Regions from separate parts of the Homo sapiens genome. Here regions 2, 3 and 4 are each reported to be linked to region 1. Evidence: microRNA targets listed by miRTarBase, many of them from high-throughput screens and not tested one by one. Region 1 holds a microRNA gene; each other region holds the end of a gene's coding sequence. Distances are from middle to middle.
What was found. The annotated mature microRNA hsa-miR-30a-5p reads UGUAAACAUCCUCGACUGGAAG and lies in region 1 at 976-997, shown strand. An mRNA with a match to its seed (bases 2 to 7 or 8) in the 3' UTR can be bound and repressed. Matches are read on the target gene's strand: a 7mer-m8 pairs with bases 2 to 8, a 7mer-A1 pairs with bases 2 to 7 and ends in A, and an 8mer does both.

Region 2: miRTarBase lists TPBG as a target of hsa-miR-30a-5p. The part of its 3' UTR that is shown has no 7-base or 8-base seed match.
Region 3: the mRNA of VPS33A is a reported target of hsa-miR-30a-5p. Seed matches in the 3' UTR shown: 7mer-m8 at 2,410-2,416.
Region 4: the mRNA of WDR75 is a reported target of hsa-miR-30a-5p. The part of its 3' UTR that is shown has no 7-base or 8-base seed match.

Annotation. Positions count from the first base shown.
Region 1 is chr6:71,401,407-71,404,591 of GRCh38, reverse strand. MIR30A (microRNA 30a) reads left to right here and starts at 971; the gene lies at 971-1,041. RefSeq lists an enhancer at 1,975-2,503.
Region 2 is chr6:82,365,922-82,369,106 of GRCh38, reverse strand. It overlaps TPBG (trophoblast glycoprotein), which reads right to left. Exons shown (of 2, transcript NM_001376922.1): 2 at 1,687-3,185. The coding sequence ends at 2,883. Among named protein-coding and RNA genes, the nearest start is that of TPBG, 3.7 kb to the right of the region's middle. RefSeq lists an enhancer at 2,876-3,185.
Region 3 is chr12:122,229,691-122,232,875 of GRCh38, forward strand. It overlaps VPS33A (VPS33A core subunit of CORVET and HOPS complexes), which reads right to left. Exons shown (of 13, transcript NM_022916.6): 12 at 3,110-3,185; 13 at 1-2,737. The coding sequence ends at 2,556. Among named protein-coding and RNA genes, the nearest start is that of DIABLO, 5.2 kb to the left of the region's middle.
Region 4 is chr2:189,474,879-189,478,063 of GRCh38, reverse strand. It overlaps WDR75 (WD repeat domain 75), which reads right to left. Exons shown (of 21, transcript NM_032168.3): 21 at 2,512-2,851. The coding sequence ends at 2,647. Among named protein-coding and RNA genes, the nearest start is that of WDR75, 35 kb to the right of the region's middle.

The DNA.
Region 1 (3,185 bases):
TGTGGATTTTATTTTTGTTTCGGGTTTGAGATCACAAACTACTAAGACTTACACAATTTAAGAACCTTACGGTAACTTCATCTAAAAACAAATCTCAGGGAAAGGCACACCCACTTTTCTGTATCAACTTAATCTTTCACTAGATTCAGAATGGTTTTGAATTACTTCAGGAAAGTAGTGACTGATAGAGCTTAACCTTCAGTTTTCCTCATTTATTTTCATAAGAGAATGGGAGTGGAATTCAAAACATTCAAATTTGGAGTTAATGTGCGTCACTGTTGTGAGTGATAGGTTCTGTGTTTTTCCAGTGGGAAACTTTGATCCACATACTGATATATGCCTGTGTTATACCTCGTTATTCTTTTCTGTTTTTCTCCTGATTGTTGCTTACTCTTTCAAAAATCAGCTGACTGTACAAGTCCTCTCTGGGAGCAGACTTTAGAGCAAAAGTGATCTATAAAAGCAGCATGTAAGTCTTTTTTTTTTTTGTCAGAGTTTATAACTTTCCAAGTAGACCTTTTATATTTTCACGGTAGTCTAAGTTCACTCAACTGCAGTATTTGATGTTAAATGTACGCTTTACGCTGTTAAGATAATTTAGTTTCTGTGTTTGGTCACTTTTGCTTAAAGGATTGTAATTACATAATGCATGTTGAAATCATATTAAGTAACCTGGCCACTTGCCTATTTACTTCTTGTGGCTAACAATAATGAATGAAACCATTTATATATGTTGTTTTAGTATATCACAAAATTTTATAGAAACTAGAAGCTCGGTGATGAATAATAGACATCCATGAGCCTTCTTATTTGTTTTGAATTTGAGACATTTTCTAGAATATTGCTGTTTGAATGAGGCTTCAGTACTTTACAGAATCGTTGCCTGCACATCTTGGAAACACTTGCTGGGATTACTTCTTCAGGTTAACCCAACAGAAGGCTAAAGAAGGTATATTGCTGTTGACAGTGAGCGACTGTAAACATCCTCGACTGGAAGCTGTGAAGCCACAGATGGGCTTTCAGTCGGATGTTTGCAGCTGCCTACTGCCTCGGACTTCAAGGGGCTACTTTAGGAGCAATTATCTTGTTTACTAAAACTGAATACCTTGCTATCTCTTTGATACATTTTTACAAAGCTGAATTAAAATGGTATAAATTAAATCACTTTAAAACCATGTCTGTACATTTTTAGAGGGCTTCAGCAGGGCATTGAGGAGGTGCTCTGTGTATGCATAGAATTTGCAATATCAAAAAGAAAGTATTCGTAAGAGAAATGAGGAAATGTGTTACAGTATTTTTATTTTTTTTAAAAGCGTAGTAGGGCAATATTTCCCAGAAAAATCTATGAAGTGATTTGTTTTGTCCTGCCCTTTCTGCAGTTTCAAAATAGGTGTTTTTTAGACCCATTCACAAAAAAAAAATCCATTAATGAAACCACAATTATTTGGGGGAAAAAAGTAAGATGAAGGGTTAGTTATTTTCACATTACTTGGATTAAACCCCTTTTATTTCCTTATAGGCTTAGTGTTTAAGTAATAAAGTAGCAGCTCTCAGCTTAATAAAGTGTCTAAAACAAACAAATACTGATTCAACTAACTCTATTATTTGAAAAACCTATTCTTGTTTCAGATGATTAGAATAGTATTTTAGGAATTTGTGGATACTGTTTCCATTTGGTTGAACTTTTAACTTAGCTTTATGCAATAACTCATATCTCTTAAAAATAATAAATACATCAAATTCTATCCTAAATATATGAAGACAATTTTAAGATTCAGAATCCTGTAGAAGATTTCTGTGATGGACATAATTTCTAATTTTCCTTTTTTGTAAATGCGTATTTTTCTTATGGCGGATATTTTTAATATTATACACTTAAATAGAAATATTTAAGTGTATAAGAGAAATATTTAAGTGTATAATAGAAATATTAAGGATACACTTATATAGAAACTAGACACTTTAAAAAGATATGAAAGTGATATCTTTTGTCCTCTAAAACACAGTATTTTATAAATATATAGTGTTTCCATTAATGTAAAAGAGTTTCTTTTCCCTGTTTAATACCCATTGATGATGATGATAAAGAAGTGATACTAAAACAGTATGATCATACCACTATTTAAAATAGTAGCATTTCTTCTAATACCTGGGATGGAGAGAAATATGTGTTAGAAATGTCTTTAAGTTTCCCTCATACATAAAGCTATCAAAACTCTATTAGTCATGCTGGGCCATGAGAGGTTCATCAACTGCCACTGAAATGCAAGGGGCTTGGAGAGGCCTCTGCCAGGCCCTGGGTCTGGAACTGAGAATGTGGTCTATTTTAATTGGTAAGCTGAAAACCCCTGGAGCAAATAACTCGGCTGTTTTTCTGGGGTCACCCGACCGTATTTCCTAGGTAAATGACTATAGGTTTGAAGAAATGGTTAAACTTTTCCTAAATCTTTGACCTTCACTTTCTTTAGGTTCTCTTCCTATGTTATTTTATATCCTCTTCCTTACCTTACTGCCCCTAAATTTTCCATTTTTCATTTTTATCTGTTCATTTTGTTCATGTAAATAATTAGTTATGGGAACTTTTTAATTTGTAAAAATTACAGCATTTTTAATTATTTTTAAATCAACAAATACAAACCTCCATAAGCCATTCCGGGTAGTTTCAAAATTAATACCTAGTATTTCTTATGTCTTGTGCCCCACATTTCCACAGTAATAATGTAAACTACTATTTTAAAGTAACATCAACAGTCCAGGCACGGTGGCTTACGCCTGTAATCCCAGCACTTTAGGAGGCTGAGGCAGGTGGATCACTTGAGGTCAGGAGTTTGAGATCAATCTGAACAACATGGTGAAACCCTGTCTCCATTAAAAATACAAAAATTAGCTGGGTGTGGTGGCACGTGCCTGTAATCCCAGCTACTGAGGTGGCTGAGAATTGCTTGAACCTGAGAGGGAGAGGTTGTGGTGAGCCAAAATGGTGCCACTGAACTCCAGCCTGGGCGACAGAGCGAGCCTACCATCTCAAAAAAAATATATCTATATATATATATAGATATACATATAAATAAATAAAATAACATCAACAGTGTGTTATTCATAATTGAAATAAGATCTGGATGCAATTTTTTATTTTACAAAAAAAATAACTTCTAAAGTTTACAGTATTATGTTTCTACCACTAC
Region 2 (3,185 bases), 11 Mb from region 1:
ATGAAGGGTGTTTTATGTTGAAAATTTTACGTTCAGTAATAAAGAGTATTACCAACTAAAATAAAATTTTAAAAATGGATACTTGCAGGTTTCTAGAGTCAACAATGCATTAATAGTAAGAACAGTATTTAAAACAAACAGACTTGTCTTATTTTTAAATAAAGTGATACTTTTATTTTTCCCATATTCCCTTATACTTATTGAATTTATATAGCCTCTATCTTCCAAGGAACTTAGAATGTTTTATAAGCTTATAGACTTAAGAATATTAGGGCTGCAAAACATTAATTAGTTGTCAAATAATAACAATTTTTTATCTTAAGAATAAGGTGTTCTTTTAATTGACTTTTTTATTTCCATATTTTGGAGAACAGGAAGGAGTGATGTGATGGAAAACAAAGCAGTAGCAATTGGAAAGTCCAAACAAGAGAATAAGTAGGGGGATGAAAAAGAAGCAATAAATTATAACTTCAAAGAAGCCATCTACCTAACAGGGAAAACTTGGCTTCACTTTATCAGATTCATCATTGCTTCAAAGAGTTGATGAGAAAAGCTAGACTAATGAATCTACTGCTTCCCTGGTTCTTAGATAAAGCTCCACTTTAAACTGTTAGATTATCATGTGATGAAGAAACAATTCTTCTCAATAGAGGCTCTATCAATATTATAATTTGTTTCCTACAATATCAGAAGACTTACTAAGTCCATCAACAGTTTACTAAGATAGTGGTCACTATTTTTGACAGATTAGTATCTCATTGTTCTTACCAAATAATGGCAACCAGACAGTTTAGGAATTTCTGATGAACACTTAAACTGTTTGATGGAATTTTAAGTGCCAAATATTTAGCTTTTTCTGAGGTAATTATAGGATCTGAAATATAACCCTTAAATAATAAATACTATATTTCACAAAACAAGCCTGATGGAATTTAAGGAATTACAGCTTTGTATTCTGACTATATATTCTAACCTATAAAAAGGAAGATTTACTTATTTTTAGCCCTACTTTGAAAATTTCTGAATTTAATTCAAAGAAGGAATCAGCAAAGATTTCTAGAACCTAAAATACTATCTGATCCTATTTTATTTATAAAAATATGAAAATGTAGATTTTATTTCAAACATAAAGCACTGAAGGACATAACCAGTTCAAAGGAAAAGCAAGCCCTAAGACTTACTGATGCAAGTTTACCTAATACTTTCAGTTAAGCAATAATGGCTACATTTAAATCACTTGATAAAAGAGCCTGAAGACTGATTAATGGAATTTACTTTTCAGATTAAATGACAGATAATAAACTGAAAAAATAATAAAAGCCTTGTATATTATGGATGTATCAATTAATGATTGCCTGTATTTACACCTAAATGTGATTTATTCTTCACAAAGGTGTATATACTTACATTATGAACAGCTTAGCTAAAATCAAAATATCCTCAAATTCTTAAACACTGAACTGAAGATAAGAACCTATAAATACTTGAGACACGTGTTTACAGATGTAGACATTTATCTGTGGTTATTTCCTCAAGTTCATATTCAACCATGTCAAGTCAACTTTTTAAACATATTAGCTGGGTCTCTGATAAACTAAAGAACATTTATGTTCCACTTTAAATGTTTTTTTGAAAATATCCTCAAGAAAATCTAAGTTTCAATTTACATTAAGACATTGAGAAATATTTTTTAAATTATATTTTATATCTTTTATTTCAGAATATTGTCTTTAAGACACTTTATCTTTATATTTATTTGCATTACATTTGTTTCAAATTCTGCTCTAAAAATCCACAGAACAATTTCAAACAGAGTTTTATTAAGTAAATACTATTTTTCTAGACCAACAATAACTTCATTAGCCTTGAAAAAGCCCCAAACTGGGAACTGTTTATTGTGCAGAACGCTTAGCTTTTACCAACTTCATTATGTTCTTACAAAACTGTTTCATAAATAGCATTAACTTTGGGACCATACAGTCACATGAATACTCAAACTCTCCATTTAAATACTAAAAGGATCCACCATTTCAAAACGATCTCCCAAGTCTATTTATATTAGACATTGCTACAGTTTGATTCTCAGCTATGTTAAGTAATAATTATCATCGGAACCAAGACCATTGAATACTCCTGCCCTTCATCCTTTTTTCAAAGCAAACTTGCACACACTGTAATTCTTTTAAGAATCTTTATTTTTTTTTTTTTTAACAATTCAGTCGGTTGGATCTCGATGCAGTTTATTAAAAAAAAATCAGTACATTTTCATATAAACTGCAATCAAAAAAGTAATTTACTTTGTCAAAGAAGTTATGAAGTTGCAAGTTATTTTTTGTAATATGCAGAACAGTAAAATGTAAGCATGCTCTTGGATGCAGGTGCTCCTGTGCACCATGGAGTTATTTTGAAGAGCCTGCTAACGTCTGCAGGCAGTTTATAGGATGCAATTATTTTCTCCACAACTTAGGTACATGAGAATAAAACTGATATTTATGAATAAAGTATTTTTCTCGAAAAAGTTGAGGCAGCTTTTGTTGAATGCTATCTGTGTGGGTACACTTGCTACACCTTGAACTGTACTGAGAGAGAGACAGACAGCAAGAAGCCCATGTTCATGCTGAAACCTGAAAAATCCCTCCATACGTGTTGAGGAGTTCCAAGAAAAAGAAGAGGGTAAAACACTATACACAACTGTTCATCGTCTTACATTAACAGAACACACCGAGAAACTTTACATAACAAGGAAGCAAATCCCCTTCACTGCTTTTAGTCAAAGTCCGTTGTATCTATAGTGGAGGATGAAAGTGGAGCAAGCCTAGTAGGGATAAAGCTTAAGTCTACATCTCATGCAGAGTTGTCCTTGGTCTGTCCTCTAATATTTCTCAGACATCCGAGTTAGAACTGAGGTTCGTTAATCTGGGGTCCGCATTGATTTCATATCTGTAATGATACCCTTCCATGTGATCCCTGCAGGCATCTCTGATGTTATGCATCCACTTTTTTATCCCCTTGCGGTTCAAATACAAAACCAGGAGGAAAATAGCGCCTATCAGGGCTAAAACAATACCCAGGAAGACATAAGAGGTTTGCAGGGATGGGGGAAGAATCGGGTCACAGTCCAGGTCAGCACTGTTGAGTTCCAAGAGGACCCGATTCCTCATTTTTTCCGGATATGCACAGGTGAG
Region 3 (3,185 bases), not on the chromosome of region 1:
TCTCAGTAAGGGCATACTCTTTTGAGACAAAGACTGCTTCAAGTATTAAATGAACTTACACAAAGGCGTATAATATATAATTATCTACCATTTTCTATTTGCATACAAATGAAGCAATTGAAGTTTTTCAGTCTTCTGCTGAATGCATTTTTAGGAGCTGCCCTAACTATGCTCTGAGCAAGCAAGTATATAGAGTCTTGGGTGAGTGCAGACACATGAGACTACAACTGAGTATCTGTTCCCAGGACAGAATCCCCAGCCAGGGAGACTTGACCAGACTTGAATTGAGCCCCAGGAACCAAAAAATGGAGGGGCAGGGTGGATTCCATTCTCTAAAGCAGCTGATGACTGCCTGAGGTGGAAGGTATAAACTAATCTCCCTGGGATATAACAAGTATTTAAAAAAGGATTTTCTACAATGAAAATGGTTTTCTTTAAGACATTTCCAAATACTGAATATCAAGGCCAAATTAATTCCATGAGAAACTAATCTTTCAATTATTATCTCTGCCACTCTTCATTCTTTCATTAAAGAGATTTTTAAAAAAGTATACAGAATTTCTCTTTCATTAATAATATTTACCGTGCCCATCAGAACTCCACTAATGGGCCGGGCACGGTGGTTCACACCTGTAATCCCAGCACTTTGGGAGGCCGAGGTGGGCCAATCGCCTGAGGTCAGGAGTTTGAGACCAGCCTGGCCAATATGGTGAAACCCCATCTCTACTAAAAATACAAAAATTAGCCAGGTGTGGTGGTGCACATCTGTAATCCCAGCTACTCAGGAGGCTGAGGCATGAGAATCGTCTGAACCCGGGAAGTGGAGGTTGCAGTGAGCTGACATCGCACCACTGCACTCCAGTCTGAAAAGAGCGTGAGACTCTGTCTCAAACAAACAAAAACAAAACAAAACAAAAACCTCCACTAATGAAAAAGGTGGGGAAAAACAATGTGTGGTTACTAATCAACAACCAAAATCACACCTGGCTGGGACCCAGCAAAGCAGGGGACCAGCTAGTTTTGCTGGAGGCTTGGGCAAGGGCAGCAAAACTGCCAACCTGACTTGGTGCCCTTGGTGCCTTAACTCCTCCAGAAGCTAAGATGGAGGAGCAGAGGGGCAGAGAACACACGGATTTTCAACTTCTCCTCCAACACCCCTGCCCCCCACCACAGCCTGACAGTCTCCTGCAGGAGTAGCAGCAGCTGTGGCTGCTGGTCTCCAAGATCATCAAGAGATACACCTGGAGAAGGCTGAGGTCACCAGAGAGGGGGCTGAAACAGTGTTTTCAGCTGAGTACGGAGTGGCCACAGACTGCTAGAAAAGTACACGTGGCAGTTACCATGGAAACGAAGTGGCCAGATGCTGAAGAAGCAAGAGTTGCCCCTGCTCACTGTGGGACCAGTTGGATGTTGGGCCCTTGATGGACAGAAGAGAAAACGGAAACCTCAATGGAGGCACCCACCACTGCTGTGTCTGGAGTTAACGTGTGTGCTAAGAAACTGTCTTTGAATTACTTCAAAGGCTGAATTCTCAGAAGGTTGCTCCCCAATTATCACATTCTTCCATGTCAAAAGCCCCTGATAAGTATGGAACCTAAGGAGATGTAGCTGATCACATAGAGCATAAACTTTGTTTCTGGGCAAGAAGCTCCCCTAAACCTCTTGCTTTGTAAGAAGTAGAAGGAAGCAAACTTGCCTTAGTGATCAGTTGCGACAGTGACTGATGACCCTAAATATAATCTCCCACACTCTGCAGGAAAAAGAAATCTCAACTCAGTGATAAAATGATCTCCAGCTCCCAACACTTAACCACTGTCCTAGGCCTGATGCGCCTTGAAGAAATACAGCACTGGGGATTAGAGGATGAACTTTCTCTTTTTATTTTCAGTTTCACCTCCTCAGTCTCAGCTTTCTTATTTTAAGAGCTGGCCCCGTTTGTCTGGCTGAATGGATTATCTACCCCCACCATCCTTAATGTATTTCCAGAGGTCTCTAATGAAGACCCTGAGCTTAGAAAACTCAAAACCAGTGCTGCTTTTACTCAGGTTGATTTTCTTCTATTCTTCTTTCTTCAGCAGATTAGGGGCCAGGCACGGTGGCTCAGGCCTGTAATCCCAGCACTGTGGGAGGCCGAGGCAGGTGGATCACCTGAGGTCAGGAGTTTGAGACCAGCCTGGCCAACATGGTGAAACACCATGGCTACTAAAAATACAAAAATTAGCCGGGTGTGGTGGTGCATGCCTGTAGTCCCAGCTACTCAGGAGGCTGAGGCAGGAGAATTGCTTGAACCTAGGAGGTGGAGGTTGCAGTGAGGTGAGACCGTGCCACTGCACTCTAGTCTGGGTGACAGAGCAAGACTCCGTCTCAAAGGAAAAAAAAAAAGGGAATACAAAAGAGACGGAGAAAGCAGTAAACAGTAGTATAATTTAAGAAGCTGACCCCAGAATATATTCTGTATTCCCATGTTTCTTCTATGGGGTTTTACTTCCTTTCAGCAATTTCTTCAAAGAGGTAGTTTATTCTGCAGTACACTTGTTAAGTCTCCTCTGAACATCCTAGAAAGGTTTTTCCATCAGAGCCTCTATCCAACTGGTTCCATTCATTAGTTTAGTGGTGGCAATGACATATTCTGTACCTCCATCTTCCAACTGGGAGAGAAATCGCAGGGCAGCAATTTCAGCGAAGGTTACGCCCCCAAGGAAAAATATCAGAGTCACTCGGTTTTCTCCCGGTTGACCTAAAATTTAAACATTTCAGAATTAAAAACTATTTATTATTAATGCTTCTCTTCCCACCTCTTCAAACATTTTATCATTCATAAGAATAAACAAGTGCCTTCATCCAGACAGTTCATCTGAAACCTAAGAATACTGATTTTGATCTCAACATTTTTTTTTAACTTCTGAGATTCTCAACACAGAAGTTGAAAGCTGCTATCCCTCAGGGAATAATCCGATTCGAGTTCTTACTACATACATTAGCAACGAACAAAAGAGGTGTATTTAATTCTGACTCCTAAGTGCTTTACTATTTTACAAAGCAACTGTACAATACCTGAAAACCACACTAACAGTACATAATTATCTGTAGATGCTGGACTGGGACTTACGTTTCTTCTGCAGTCCTGTGGGCAGTGGCTGCCGCTCCTCAAAGTGGGGCCCTGGGAGGATGCGGAGGACCTCCTC
Region 4 (3,185 bases), not on the chromosome of region 1:
AATCTCTCTTCCTTCACCAAGACCCTACTCACAGAGTGGAGCCTCTACTCCAAGGATGGTAGGCTAAGAATACTGGAGCTCTGGTCGCCACTGCCCCAGCTTGCTTGTAGGCTACTGCCTCTGCTCAATTTGTAAAGCAGGGGTGTCACTCTTGAGAGAACTGGGCCTTTGTGCCTACTCATGGTTCTGGAGCAGTGGCTCAGAGATCTTGCCCAGGGGCAAGAGGCAGTCCATAAGAATACAGTTCTGACATAAGCCTCAAAAACAATGGGGATTTGGGTGGTAAGCAATTAAGAGGAGACTGGTAGCTCCATTAGAACAACAAGCTAAACCATAAACTAGCTAGTTTACCAGAAACAAAGAAAACAAGGAAAGAGACAGCTAAAATGGGTCCTCCTGGGATCAGAACAAACCTCAAAGGCTGGCCTCAAAAACTAACGCTGCATTTTGATGGCAGTGAAAATACTCGTGTAATACTATACTGATGGATACATATTATTATATGTTGCATAAACCCACAGAATTACACCAAGACTGAACACTAATTCAAATTAGACTTTGGGTGATTATGATGGGTTGAGGTAGGTTCTTCAAGTGTAACAAATGTACCACTCTGGTGCACCAGAGATGTTGATAATGGGGTAGGCTATTGCATGCGTTGGGGGAGAGGGTATATGGGAAATCTCCGTACTTTCAATTTTCTTGACCTAAAACTACCCTTAAAAAAATAGACTTAAAACAACAAAAGCACCCCTGAAAGGGATCTCAATTTTTTTTTAATTTCCACCTTCCATCCCACCACCAGTAGAAAGGGACTCAATTTAACGGATGACTGTGGAGCAATTTATGTGCCATAATGTAAATAATGTAAAATGCTGCAGCTGATATGTAAAATCTGGTGGTTCTTCAAAAGGTTAAACATAGTTACCAAATAACCCAGTAATTCCCCTCATAGGTATACTAACAAAAGTGAAAATAAAAAGGAATGAAGTACTGATATATCTACAACATGGATGCTGAATGAAAGCAGCCACTTACAAAAGATCACATATTGTATGAGTCCATTTACATGAAATGTCCAGAATAGGCAAATTTACAGAGATAGGATGAGTTGTTGCATTGTTGGTGAGGTGAAGGAGGCTGAGGGAAATGGCTAGTTTTGGGGTGATGAAAATGTTCTAAAATTGATTGTGGTGATGGTGTCCAAGACTGAACGTATTAAAACCCACTAAATTTTCCTCTTTAAATGCATGAATTGTATGGTTTGTGAGTTACATCTCAAATCTCAATGTAGCTTATTTTTAAAAAATGTAGCCAAGGTCGGAGGATCACTTGAGGCCAAAGAGTTTGAGACTAGCCTGGGTAACATAGCAAGACATCTCTACAAAAAATTTAAAAAATAGCCAGGTGTGGTGGTGAGTGCCTGTAGTCCCAGCCACTTACGAGTCCGAGGTGGGGGTTGGGGACTTGAAAAAAAAAAAGTTAAGATTTTACATAAATAGTGATTCAAAAACACTTTAAGTCTGTTTAGGATGCTACAGACCGGGTGGTTTATAAACAGAAACTTATGTCTCAGTTCCAGAAGTCGGAAAGTCTAACAAAAAGGCACCAGATTTGCTGTTTGGTGAGGCCCCACTTCATAGTTCACAGATGGTTTTCTTCTTGCTGTATCCCCACGTGTTAGAAGGGGCAAAGAAGCTCTCCAGTGTCTCTTTTGTAACAGCATTTATCCTATTCACAAAGGCTCCAGTCTCATGACCTAATCATCTCCCAAAGGCCCCATCTCCAAATACCACATTGAGGATTAGATTCCAACATTTGAATTTTAGGGGGGCACAACAAACATTTGGTCTACAGCACAAACTAAAAAGCCATTTGCAGCAATTTTTGTGAACATTCATTGAGATGTGCTCTTACAAACGCTTTGTTTTTGTGCTAACTTCTAAATATAAATTTTACAAAAGTGCATTAGGGAAGTGGAAAACTCAAAATGCTAGGTGGTTAAGATGTAGCAGCTTCACTGCTTTAACTAAAACAGGGGATCTGGATCGTTTTCTACTAGCAACTGGACTTTGGGTCAGATCATCTGAATTCAGAATTTTAGGCAGCCCATATTATTATATAATATCCTCAGTGAGGTTTGTGGAACACCACATAATCAACTCGTCTCTAAATTTCTCTGAGAGAAATAAATACACTAAGAGGAATAAATCAGGACTAAAGAAACCTCACTCCAGCTCAGGTCACATTTGGCCACCAAATGAATTTGTGTTAAAACAATTATGTCAACAAAGCCTTTTAACTTTCAAATCTTTTCGTATCTCCAAACTGCAGCTTAGGGGACATATGCTGTACAGTTCAAGTCTCAGTTCTGCTGTATCACCTGTGAAGAAAATACCTACTTGTTTTATAAGGCTGATGTGTGACTCAAAATAAAAAAATGAGATGATGTGGTATATCAATGATCCAGTAACTGTAAAGCATGATGCAAATACATGTTCATATTATCAGTTTTTTAAAAAAGCAAAGTTTGTTAATATTTATTATCTTATTTTTAGAACAGAAATAACATTAAAATAGATGTTTTTAGAATATCAACATACAATCAAAAACACAAAGTCCAAGGATCCTCCCCATCTCCAAGGCTTAAAGGGCAGCTATCCAGCTGTAGTCTATTTTCCTAAATTTTCTCAGTTCTTTTTCTTCAGATTTTGACAACTGATGTATAATGTCTTCTCCTAAACCTGTGTTACTTGTATCCTGGACTTTTTCGGTAAAATCATTTTCTTCATCTGAATCTTCACTTTCTTTTTCTTCTTCCATATCTACATCTTCAGGAATTTCCTTAGCACTTTAACAATAACAGAATAAAATATAAACACTATTAAATGTTTCTAAACAGTAACTTTCTAATTTGACACCTATGTAGAAATATAATCACACAAAGTAAATGAAGAATTTTGTTACTAAGTACACTTTAAAAATTATGGGTTATTTATAAAAGAGCAGGTGAATTTACAAACATGTAATTTTAAATTATGTACCAAGCCCTTAAAACACACACATACAAGATCTTTTTTGAAACTTATTTTCAATGTATGTTACTTGACTTAATAATCCTATAGCCTTTAAATCTATTTTAAAACTTATGAAATAAAAAGAAATACAGTGGAAGAATACTCTAA